Linked DNA regions of Homo sapiens. The protein of the gene in region 4 purifies or fractionates together with the protein of the main gene of each other region. This does not show direct contact. Each region holds a gene or a part of one and is shown on either strand. Other genes may lie near its edges.

The links.
Region 1: the proteins of SDK2 (region 4) and ZSCAN18 purify together in Homo sapiens (affinity purification with mass spectrometry; one large-scale study listed by BioGRID and IntAct). This does not show direct contact.
Region 2: the proteins of SDK2 (region 4) and TSPAN15 purify together in Homo sapiens (co-immunoprecipitation; one large-scale study listed by IntAct). This does not show direct contact.
Region 3: the proteins of SDK2 (region 4) and CD9 purify together in Homo sapiens (co-immunoprecipitation; one large-scale study listed by IntAct). This does not show direct contact.

The regions. Positions count from the first base shown.
Region 1 is NC_000019.10:58,083,336-58,085,795, forward strand, and holds the end of ZSCAN18 (zinc finger and SCAN domain-containing protein 18), read right to left. Parts: intron 2,045-2,460; coding exon 1,350-2,044; 3' UTR 521-1,349; downstream 1-520. UniProt on the Homo sapiens protein: May be involved in transcriptional regulation.
Region 2 is NC_000010.11:69,503,464-69,505,836, reverse strand, and holds part of TSPAN15 (tetraspanin-15), read right to left. Parts: intron 1,400-2,373; coding exon 1,352-1,399; intron 1-1,351. UniProt on the Homo sapiens protein: Part of TspanC8 subgroup, composed of 6 members that interact with the transmembrane metalloprotease ADAM10.
Region 3 is NC_000012.12:6,224,381-6,227,902, reverse strand, and holds part of CD9 (CD9 antigen), read right to left. Parts: intron 2,478-3,522; coding exon 2,369-2,477; intron 1,765-2,368; exon of another isoform or gene 1,543-1,764; intron 1-1,542. UniProt on the Homo sapiens protein: Integral membrane protein associated with integrins, which regulates different processes, such as sperm-egg fusion, platelet activation and aggregation, and cell adhesion.
Region 4 is NC_000017.11:73,399,936-73,403,457, forward strand, and holds part of SDK2 (protein sidekick-2 precursor), read right to left. Parts: intron 2,207-3,522; coding exon 2,011-2,206; intron 1,818-2,010; coding exon 1,719-1,817; intron 1,277-1,718; coding exon 1,085-1,276; intron 1-1,084.

The DNA.
Region 1 (2,460 bases), on a different chromosome or scaffold from region 4:
TTTCTTTTTTTCTTTTTTTTCTGAGATGGAGTCTTGCACTGTCACCTAGGCTAGGGTGCAGTGGCACAATCTTGGCTTACTGCAACCTCCGCCTCCCAGGTTCAAGCAATTCTCCTGCCTCAGCCTCCTGAGTAGCTGGGATTACAGGCACGCATCACCACAGCTGGCTAATTTTTTGTATTTTTAGTAGAGACAGGGTTTCACCATGTTGGCCAGGCTGGTCTCAAACTCCATGATCTGCCTGCCTCAGCCTCACAAAGTGTTGGGATTACAGGTGTGAGCCACCACGCCCGGCCCATGAATAAGTACTTACTAAGTCTCTGTGATTTGGGGGTCATTACAACAGACTGCCTGCTCAAACACAGTGACAGAAAAAGAGGCACCAGTTTCTGTATCTACAGGGAGCAGTTAAGTTTATGCGCAGGGAGCAGTTAAGTTTATGCGCAGGCAATGGGAATGATACTGTAATCTTGAGAATAAATGCAATCAATGAAAAGATCACCTTATGTAGCCCAAGGAGTTTAGTCTCCTTTGCTCAGACAGACAGATCTTTATTAGTGTTTTCAACTTATTTTGCTCACAACTTCCCAGCAAGAAATGTCTTACATTGCAACCAGTTCTCACATTTAGATGTATGGGTGAAAAGTTTCACAAAACAGTATTTGCCTTTACTACATGATGCATTCTGGCCTACTTTATTCTGCTTCATTGCTGTGTAATGCTGGTGACCACTTGCTAATTGATTTCCCATTTTACTAAATGGGCTGGGACCCACGGTCTGAAAACCCTGCCTTAGGCTGCAAGCATTTCTGTGATCTCTGCGAGCTACTCCATATAGGTAAACACACGCGAGGTAAACTAGGAAACAGCTTCTGCTTTTGCAGATTAGAAGTGAAGTTGACATCACGCCAAGTACGAAAAGGCTAAACAGCTGACAAAATTTCCACTTGAGCAACCCTGGGGAGCGCAAACAGGAGGAATCGGGGCAAGGGTGACTTGAAGAAAGCACTGGCAGATCACGCACTTTAAGGCAACTCTACACTGCACAATGTCAAATAACCTAGCATGGGGCGGCACTAAATGGCTGCAGGAAAGCCGAGTCTTCTTCCACATCCGGCGGCTCCCCTCGGATGCGAGCGCTGGCCCAGGGTGTGTTTACAGAGGTGAGGGCTTCCCGTGGACCCTTCTCGTTGGGAGCGCTTAGCCTCAGGAGCGGATTCAGGGCACAGGCAGAGGACGTCCACAAACACCACAGGAAGCCGCCACCCAGGGGCGTGGAAAGGCCCAATGCCTCGTCTGGGATTCACGGCCGGCAAAGCGGCCCCTCCGGAACGGGACAGCACAGCGGCTCACCTCTGCGCCTCTGGGGGTGCGGGGGGAGCCTCGCCCTCCACGCTCTCTGGGGGACCGCCCGCCCTAGCCCCCGCCTGGGCTTCGCGGGTGGACGGTTGGGGGCCCCGGGCGCCCCCCAGCGCGTAGCTTTTCTCCTTCTCGTGGGTCTTCTGGTGCTCGGCTAGGGCCAGGCTGAAGTGGAAGGTCTTCCAGCAGCCCTGACAGGCGTAGCGCTTCCGGCCGCCATGGCTGCTGTGGTGCTCCATCAGGTGCGAGAGCCACGCGAAGGCCTCCCCGCACTCGCCGCAGGCATAGGGCTTCCCGCGGGACAAGCCCGGCTCGTCAGCCCCAGGGCCCTGCCCGGCCTCCAGCCCTGCGCTGTCGCCGGAGCTAGAGACGCCCTCGAGGCTCTGCCCGTCCCCATCCTCGGGGTGCGGCCTCTTGGTTCCCAGTTTCGCCGTGCCCCTGTCCGGGGCAGGCTGCTGGATGACGGACTGCCTCTGCGATCCGGTGGCAGAGTCGGACTCCGCGTCCTGGGGGTCCTGCGGGTCCGGGGCCTTCCCAGGCTGCTCTTCCTCCTCCTCAGTGGTGCCCGACGGGGGATCGGCAAGGGCGTCCCCAGGGGGCGCCTCCGTAGGCAGCTCAGGCAGCACCCCCGCGGGGGCGGCCTCCTCGCAGGCGCACCCAGCGCTCTCCTGCCGCCTCCCGCCTTCTGGAACAAGGTCAGAGCCCTAGCGTGAGCGCCCCGCCCAGGGCCAGGGAGAGGAGGACCCAGCCGAGCCTCAGCTGCCGGAACAGCGCACAGGGCTCCGGGCTCTGGATCCCCGCGGGGCTCACGGCTGTTTGGAAGCAGCGCTGTCCCTCCCAGGCAGCCCTGCAGCGCATGCCCCGCGCCTGCTGCTGCAGATGTGGGACCTGGAGGCCTCCAACAACGGAGGCCACCGACAGGACAGGAAGGACAGCCCCACTGAGCCCGGGTTCTGGAAACCGCGCCTTTGGAGGTCTCCACCTGGCCACTAGCTTGGCCACAAGATGCACGATGCAAGGAGAGCCTGCTCAGAGCGCACCCTCCTGGAGGGAGGGGCCCGGCTGCCAGCGAAGAGAGTGGGGTCAATAGCTAAGGCCAAA
Region 2 (2,373 bases), on a different chromosome or scaffold from region 4:
GCCCTGCCTGTGTGCTTCTCAGATGTCCCTGCATGAAAAGCCTCACGGATGTTTTCCATACATGAAAAGCCTATTTATAATTATCCAAGCCAATAGCCCCACTCCAGGTACATATAAAAAACAAAGCAGAGTTGGGCATGGTGGCCAGTGCCTGCAGTCCCAGCTACTATGGAGGCTCAGTTGGGAGGAGTGCCTAAGCCTAGGAGTTTGAGGCCAGCCTAGGCAACAGTGAGACCCTGTCTGTCTCTTAAGGGAAAAAAAAAAAAAAAGCATTTCTGCATTGGTTTTAATATACAAAGAATTTTCCAGAAGTACTACTAGGTAAATTAAGGAATGATTACACATTATTTAATTCAGAACTTTATCAAGAATTGTTCACCGTTTTTAAAAACCATGCCAGTGGCAAAAATGATGCCCATGGTATGTGAGTCGCCAACACAATGCCCAGTATCAGCTGCCCTGTAGCTACTACAGCCTCAGGGATGCCTCACATCAGTGCAGACACCTGACTACATTGTGTCTTCTGCACCCCCCACTGCCTAAGCACTTACATGATGAACTATGTTAAACAGCTGTAAATTGCTGTATTTCATTTCTACTTTATCTCAGATCATTATGTTAATTGTATTGGAATTGGGCATGTAGGTAGGTTATCTGTGAATTTCACTTGGGGATAATAAATAGGACATTACCACTGTTTGTTATAAAAATGGCCATTGGTTCTGAGGGGCTGAGAACCACTGCTGGTCTATGGCTCTCAAGCATGTGTCAGAATCACCCACTAGCCCCATACCAAGAATGTGCATTTCTCACATTCCTAGGGGATGCTGTTGCTGCTGGACTGGGGACCCCACTTTGAAAGCCACTGCTCTGCATGTCAGGTCACTATTCCTTTTAGGTCCCTTCTCAGCACCACCCCTGCTTCTCTCCTAGACCAGGGGTGTTGCCCAGGAAGCTGACCCAGGAGCAACCCCCAGAGGGGGTTACCATCCTCTAGGACTCCTGGGTCCCAGGTGGCCCCAGGGGCAGAGGCAAGCTGGTGCTGAGCATGGCTGGGCACACAGCACGCTGCGGGTACCAGGAAGCGCCGTGGTGGCTTCATGTGGAACAGCCCACAGTAGGTGCTCGGCAAACCCTGACAGGCGGCATCTCCCAGCCTGGGGGAATTCTTGGTTCCCTGAGCCCTTCTGTGCTGGGGTGGAAAACCACAGCAGTCCTGGCTCTGGGTCACAGCCAGGAATGTGGGAAAATCTCAGTGGCCAGGACCCCGACCTCAATAAACCCCTCCGATCACCCCAGGGTGGACCAGGAAGAGCAACATTTCCAGGGAAAGGCATTTCAAAGACATTACCTCCTTGTCGATAGTTTTGTAGCCACACATGGTGTTGACAACTTCTGTCTGAAATGGAAATGTATAATAGCTAATATTTATAATGGTTCTAACTCAAAAAGGCACTATTATCCTACCCATTTTACAGATGAAAACCGAAGCACAGAGTTGCACCGTCCAGCAGGGATGGAGCTGAGATTCCGACCCAGGCAGTCTGGCTTGAGTCTCCATCATAACCACCTCCTCCTCCAAGAAATGCCCCGTGAAAAAACTGTAGGAATGCAGGTTCCATGACTTTTACCTGGGAGAACCACCCCTCCACTAGCAGCAGATCAGGACCCCAGAGAAAGGTGTGCTGCCCACGCTCCCGGGCTATGACCGCCCCAGAGCACCGCTTTGCTCACACCGTCTCAGAGGTCGGGGTGGGGCTGTTCCTGCGCCGCTGGCTCTTGGGGAGGAAAACTTCAGACTACAGCTGGCACAGGGTCAGCTGTGGTTTACCTGAGGTCCAGGGCAGGGCCCCTGGCCATGCTTCCGTTCCATAGACCACTGCTCCACCAGCGGAGAGTGCTGCCAAAACTTCCTTCTTGGGAAGAGAGGTGCTCTCCAGAACTCCCGACTACTGATTAATTTAGGCATAGGGAAACCTGTGGTCACGCCCTAGACCTCATCAAACCCCTCCCCAGGCAGGCCCTAACTCACAGGCTGCCGCGGGCACTTCCCATCACCACCTGTGCCCCGCAGGGTCTCCTTCTCCAACCACCAGGGAAGAGAGTGAGACTTCCTGGTCCAGCCCATGACCGTCCCCCCCAGCCCCGCTGCTCTACATGTAAGTGAACGCTGCCGTGAGTGCTGCAGGCGCCAGTGATGACTCAGGAGGGCAACAGCAGAGCCCCCAGCGTGCCCTCTGGTGTCACATTTCCTGGGTCCAGATCTTGCTCTGCCACTTAGGAGCAGAGCCCAACCTTAGGTGGGCTGCTAAGGAACTGGCACGCAGAGGTACTCAATACATATTTGTTAACTGAGAAAATGAATGAATGAAT
Region 3 (3,522 bases), on a different chromosome or scaffold from region 4:
CTTTCCCACCTGTCAGCTGCTGGCTGGGCCACCGACGCAGGGGTTTCTCTCCCTGACTGCAATTTGGGTGAAGTAAAAGGGCCAAGACAGCGCCACCCCATCCCTGCCAATGGGGCACATTCAGCCAGTACAGACCTCTTCCATTCCTACAGAGGGAGACCCCACAACCTGGCAATGACAACCCGAGAAGCAGCTCTTTTAGGCCTGGGTTCAAAACCTGGCCCTGCCTCTTGAGGGAATATAAGCTTAGACAAGTTATTTCAGCTCTCTAGGCCTCGGTTTCTGCACTTGTGAGATGAGAATCACTCCACACTCCTCGTAGAGCTAAGGGGATTAAATTATATAATACACACAAGACAATGAATGACACACAAAGAAGGGGGCTCAAAAATGTTAGTGTCTTCCAGCCGGGCGAGGTGGCTCACGCCTGTCATCCCATCACTTCGGGAAGCCAAGACGGGAGGATCACCTGAGGTCGGGAGTTGGAGACGAGCCTGACCAACATGGAGAAACCCCGTCTGTACTAAAAATACAAAATCAGCTGGGCATGGTGGCACATGCCTGTAATCCCAGCTACTCAGGAGGCTGAGGCAGGAGAATCGCTTGAACCTGGGAGGCAGAGGTTGCGGTGAGCCGAGATTGTGTCATTGCACTCCAGCCTGGGCAACAAGATTGAAACTTCGTCTCAAAAAAAAAATAAAAAAAATAAAAAATAAAAATGTTAGTGTCTTCCTCCCAGTTCCATCCTCTTACCCATGAGATTCTTAACTCCCACATCTAAAAATATAAAGAATCAGCCATAGAGGCTTTGGGTAACAGAAAAGAAAAAGTGGGTTGTTAGAAGCAGCCAGGACAAGGGAGGACTGAGTCTCTCTTTGGAGACACACGCGCCGGCCACAGGGCTTTTGCTTAGGAAAGCAGGCCTGACTGTGCCTGCTCCTGCCGGCAGACCTGCTCCCCCAGCACAGGGCTCCCTTCTGGAACACGGCGTGGAGTGTGGAGAGTCTTCCCCAGCACCCGCACCCGGCTCCTCCCTCCTGCTCTGCAGGACAGCATTCTAAGCCTGTCACAGACTCCCAAAAAATGGTCTGTTGCCAAAACAAGTCAGGGCGCTATAGAAACCTGTTCCCCAAAAACTCTGTGTGTATGTGTAGTTTTTTTTCTAAACATACATTGTGCTTTCTCTCACTTTCTTTCCGATAATAGAGAGACACACCCCAAAAAACCCCAGCTAACAATAAAAAGCAGTAAACCCAGCAAAACTATCCACAGGGCTCAAATGTTACGCAACCAAAGGAGCTGTTTTTAAAGACTCTCCCTACCCAGTTCAAGAGGTGGGAAAGGGAAGGTCTACGTGGCTGGCCAGCCTTGCTTCTCCCTGAGGGACTGGGAGATAACTGTTTTCTCCCTCGTTTGTAAAAATAACTTTTTTGGTGGGTGGGAAGGAAGTGACCAAACTTACATTTTGAGCCTGACAACATGTCAGCGTCATCCTAAAAATAGGAGGTTTCCTTTGTTCCTCACAAATGAAAAGTTTCCTACCTCCAAGCCAGGCAGAGTACAGCCGCAGAGTCTGAATTCACGCAGACGCGGGCAACTGCACTTGGCAGGCACCAGGCTCCCCCTCCTCTGAAGGGAGCTTTGACGTGGTGATACGGCAACGAGAGGGATAGAATGGTCTAGCAAGGCTGCCAAGAAGCCTGAGTGTAGAAAGAAACCTGCCAAGTCTGTTCATGTTCAGAGGATCCCAGGCAGGTTTAAACTGGAAGCCTCTCTCCCAAAGCAAAAGTCGTGTCAAATACAAACAAATAAAACTAAACACTACAGCATTTACCCCAGTACCAGGGGTCCAAAGGACTGGGCAGAGTCCATTCTAGTCTCTCCTATTGTTGCTGTGTTTTCCAGGAGGCTGATGTTTTTCCCAGTCTCAGAGTCCCTATCTGAACAGTGAAGAGGAAAGCTGTCTATATCTTCTTCCAGCACTGCAGATCCCCAGGACAAAGCTTTTTGAATTAAGGAAATGATGCAGGATAAGAAGACAATCAGGAGAGAGCATCAGAGATGAGAACAGAGGTTCGTAAACCCTCAAGAATGAGTACAACTTTGGCAGAGGCTACATCACATCAGAGAACCATCAACATGCCTGACTTGGCCATCAGGAAAAGAAACCACATCAGTTAAACGCAAATTCCCAGGCACAACGACACACACAAAAACTGCACAACTTGAAAGGGACACGACTGGCCAGCGTGGCTAGAGCAAAAGTCTTTCCCAAGCCCAAGTCCCTGGGTCAACATGGGGCCTCCAAAGTTGCAGGAACTTTGTTGGAGCCAGGGTCTGAATTCACTGAGCCTTCCCCGTCCCTCACCTGTGTAGAAGCTGGAATTATTATTATTAGTTTCTTGCTCGAAGATGCTCTTGGTCTGAGAGTCGAATCGGAGCCATAGTCCAATGGCAAGGACAGCAATCCCGGCAAGCTGCAAGACATACAGGACATCAGCATTAATTCTGGCTGCCAGCAACAACACAGTCCCCACGCGCTTAAGGGTGAGACTTGCAAAGGACTTTGTGACCACCCTTGGTCTCTGCCCCTCATATACGCCTGGTAGTTGTAGATGCCATTACGGGGTGTGTTTGATTCATGCAGGTACTAAAAATACCAGCAAGCGAGGAATAAACAGTGACCTACCTGCCGCCCATTGGCTGAAGGGGTATTTTATAGGCAACAGAACACTATACAGCAGTGAAAACGAGTAACTCTAGCTACACGCAACACCATGAGTGCATCTCACAATGCTAAACCAAGAAGCCAGAGCCACAGGCACACACACAATATGATTCCATGTAGTTAAAAACGCTATGCTGTTTAGGGATGCACACAGAGCTAGACGCTTACATGTGCCTATAAATGATAAAGGAAAAGCATTGTTATCAGGTGAGTGGTGATGTTTAGGTGGAGGAGGAAATTATGCTCAGGGAGGTGCCATGTGGCTGGGGGTGTCGTATTCTAACTGTTGACTTGGGTGATGGTTACACAGTTCCGGACACACATGCACCAGGGAGGGCAGCTGCAATGTCCCTGGAGACCTGCTGCTCAGTAAATGACATGCCAGGGCCTCCCCTCGCTGGCACTGCTGAACTAGATGCTGTGCAGGAGGCCTCCTGCCAAGTCCCCCCAGTGCCAGCTGAGCTCCCTCGTCGTCACCCGTACCAGGGCTTGCCGGGGGAGTGACTCACAGGCCTCCAGTGTGGTAGCCGGCTGGACGCAGGAGTGGGTGGGCCCAGGTTTTGCTGGTCCACCCTCCTCAACAGAGGCACTCTTATGTCAGAGCCCGCTCATCAGGGACCTTGGTTCTCGGCTCCAGGAGCTATTGATAGCCCATGGTGTGGACAGGCCTCTCTTTCCTTCCTCCTTTCCTCCTCTCCTTTCCCTTACGATATGGCAGTGAGTGTGGGCATGTTGGGTGGACAGCAGATGTGGCAATAGTGGGAAGGGCCACCCAGACCTCCGCCTGCAGCAGT
Region 4 (3,522 bases):
AGCAACACCTCCCTCAGGGTTGTTGTGAGGATTAAATGAGTCAACGTGAGCAAAGCTCCCAGCACCATGCCCCGTGAACACTACATACCTATTTGCCAGCATGGCTGTAATTATCACTGGGCTTTGGCTGAGACTCAGGCAGCCCAGCCATCTACGCAGCAGGTGGAGGGATGCTGGCAGGTCAAACAAGCACTGCCTGACTGATCTGGATGGGACCACATGGTTATCTGGTCCAACTTCCCATATATACAGATGGGGAAACTGAGGCACAGAGGGGACACAGAACTTGCTCAAGGTTGTAGGGCTTGGCAGAAGCAGAGCTGAGAGTGGACCTCGGCTTGCTCTCTGTGCCAGGCCTAGGAGTAGCCCCACCGTGCTCTGCCACCTCCCAACCAACCCTTCCACACGCTGGAATCCAAGGTGGACCCTCTGGGCGACAGTGGGAAATTTTCCCCTGAATCACAGATACCATTGCCTGGTGTGGAATCTGGTGAGAAATGGGTGAAGGGAGGGACTGGTGGGGAAATGAGACAAGGCAGGGGGCCTCTGCTTTTCTGAGAGCTGTGGGAGGATGCAGCAGGGAGCCAGGGGAGCCCCTGTCCAGAGACCTGGGATCCCAGGGATTCCGCCTGCTCTGAGGGGACCCAGACCCACACAGCACAAGGGAAGGGGAGAGCCTGTGGGAAGAACGCTGGTATTCCTGAAAGACAAGGGGCCTCTTTTTATTTTTTTTTTTGAGACGCGATGTGGCCCTGTCACCCAGACTGGAGTGCAGTGGTGTGATCTCGGCTCGCTGCAACCTCTACCTCCTGGGTTCAAGCGATCTTCCATCCTCAGCCTCCCAACTAACTGGGATCACAAGCATGCACCACCACAGCTGGCTAATTTTTGTATTTTTAGTAGGGTTTTACCACGTTGGCCAGGCTGGTCTCGAACTCCTGACCTCAAGTGATACGCCTGCCTCAGCCTCCCAAGGTGCTGGGACTACAGGCATGAGCCACCACGCCCAGCCGACAAGGGGCCTCTTGAATGGGACGCTGCTCAGGAGAACTCAAAGAGTCCTGCCTTGAGAGTGGGCACTTACCTGGGGGCACCCCAGAGGAGATGGTGGAGGCGGACACTTGGCCCTGGCCCTTTGAGGTCATGGCGGCCACCTCGATGGTGTAGGTGGTGAGCGCGGTGAGGCCCGTGACACGGTACTCCAGGGTCACGTTGGGCAGGTAGTGGGTCACACGGGTGTTGGTTCGATTGTACTCCTCCCAGGAGATCCGGTACCCTGGGGAGAGCCGCCGTGTTGGCATGAGCTTGGCTGTGATCACAAGTTGGCCTGACCCACTACTCCACTTCTCACTTCTCCACTAGGCTGGCAATTAGATCCACGCTGGGAGCAATGGGGCCAAGGGAGGTGGGAGCTGTTGGCATCATGCCCTGGGTCTCAGGTGTCGCCTCAGTGGGATGCCAGCACTTTAGGGAATTGCAGGGGACATAGTGAGTCATCATGGCAGCCACTGAGATCTGTGGCAGAAGGTGTGGGGCTGCAGACTCTGGGATGTGTTATGAAGTGGAGGTGCCAAGAGCCTCCTGTGAGTGGTTTCTAAGAAAGCATGGGTTGGCTTCAAGAGTTTGGGTGAAAAGTAGCTCAAAGGCAGGGGATGGACCAGCTCTGACCTTTCCCAGCCCTGTCCTGCCCTCTGGTTCAGAAACACTGCAGTGCCTACCTGTGAGGATGCCATTTTTCTCTCCCGGCTCTTGCCAGCTGACCTTCAGCGATGTGTCCAGGATCTCACTGAAGCTCAGGTGTCCCACGGGCCCAGGCACTGCACCCCAAAAGGAACCCCCACCCCCCAAGGCCAGTTAGAGCCAGAGAGAGACCACCATCTGTGAGATAGCCTGTGGTAATCTGGGGGTATCTCAGCCTGGGAGACAAGCCTGGGCCACCCTTCTGCCTGGGGCGCCCAGCCTGGCCTTGGGCGGGGGGGGGCAGAAAGAGCAGGGCTGGGGGGTGCCTACCATCCTCATGGGTGCGCACCAGCTGCGGGGTGCTGCGTGGCCCGTCCCCGGGGGTGGTGAAACACAGCACTGAGGTGAAGTACTCGGTGAACTTCTTCAGGCCAGACACGAAGCCCACGTGGATGCTGTCTTGAAAGTTAGGCCGGGCGGTCACCATGGTAACCTCCTCTTCCTGTTCCGGCTCCCAGGCGATCAGCTGCGGAGAGGCGAGCAAGTCACACAGGGCAGCAGGAAGGTTCCAGAGGAGGCCAAGCCCTCTCCCACAGGCTGGGCCAATCAACAGATGGTGTCCGGGGACCGGAGTCCCTGTGGTGCCTCCTCCGAGGGAAGGGACAGGCAGTGCAGGGAACCTGCGGGGTACTGGGGTTCACTTTGGGGCGCTTCTCCACTTCTTGAGCCACTGACTTTATGCAAAGCACCGTGCTGGGTGCTTCCCAGGAATCGCCTCGTACTCAATTCTCACAGAGACCCAGGAGGGAGGCATTTCACCAGGAACAGCTGCATAATTTGCAGGCTCAGTGCAAAATGAAAAATTTAGCCCTTGTTCAAAAACGACTAAGAATTTTAAGATGATAGCATCAGAGCATTTAACTAAGTGTGGGGTCCTTCCAAACGTGGGGCCCTGGACGACTGCACAGGTGGCACACCCATGAAGCCGGCCCTGTATTCCTTTTTTGAGATGGGGTCTCACTATGCTGTCCAGGCTGGAGTACAGCGGCATGATCACAGCTCACTGCAGCCTCAACCTCCTGGGCTAAAGCAGTCCTCCCACCTCAGCCTCCCAAAGTGCTGGGATTATAGGTGTAAGCCACTATGCTCGGCCCAGCCCTGTATTTTATTTTATTATTTATTTATTTATTTTTATTTTTTGAGACAGAGTCTTACTTTGTCGCCCAGGCTGCAGTACAGTGGCAAGATCTAGGCTCACTGCAACCTCTGCCTCCCGGGTTCAAGTGATTCTCCTGTCTCAGCCTCCAGAGTAGATGGGATTACAGACATGCACCACCATGCCCGGCTAATTTTTGTATTTTTAGTAGAGATGGGGGTTTCACCATGTTGGCCAGGCTGGTCTCGAACTCCTGATCTCAAGTGATCCGCCCGCCTCGGCCTCCCAAAGTGCTGGGATTACAGGCATGAGCCGCTGTGCCCAGCCCAACCCTGTATTTTACAGATGAGGAAACTGAGGCTCAAAGAGGCTCACACAGGTAGGGGGAAGCTGGTTCTGGGATTCCAAGCCCTGAGCTCCTACATCTTGCCCCATGTGAGCTGGGGCAGCTTCGTCTTTGGAGCTCTCCAAGGGTTACTTCCTACAGAGCTGGGAACTTCAGTTTGTGGGTAACTATTATCCTCTTACACTCCTTCTAAGTTGGGATTTCCATCTTAAATATCAAGTAGAGGCGGGGCATCGGCAAGAAAGTCCCATCTGGAAATCCCTCAAGTTCTTGCTCATCTCCCCTCTGCAGATCACACCTGGCCCCCGCCCCCTCCCGCCTGTCTCGCCTCCTGCTCTCA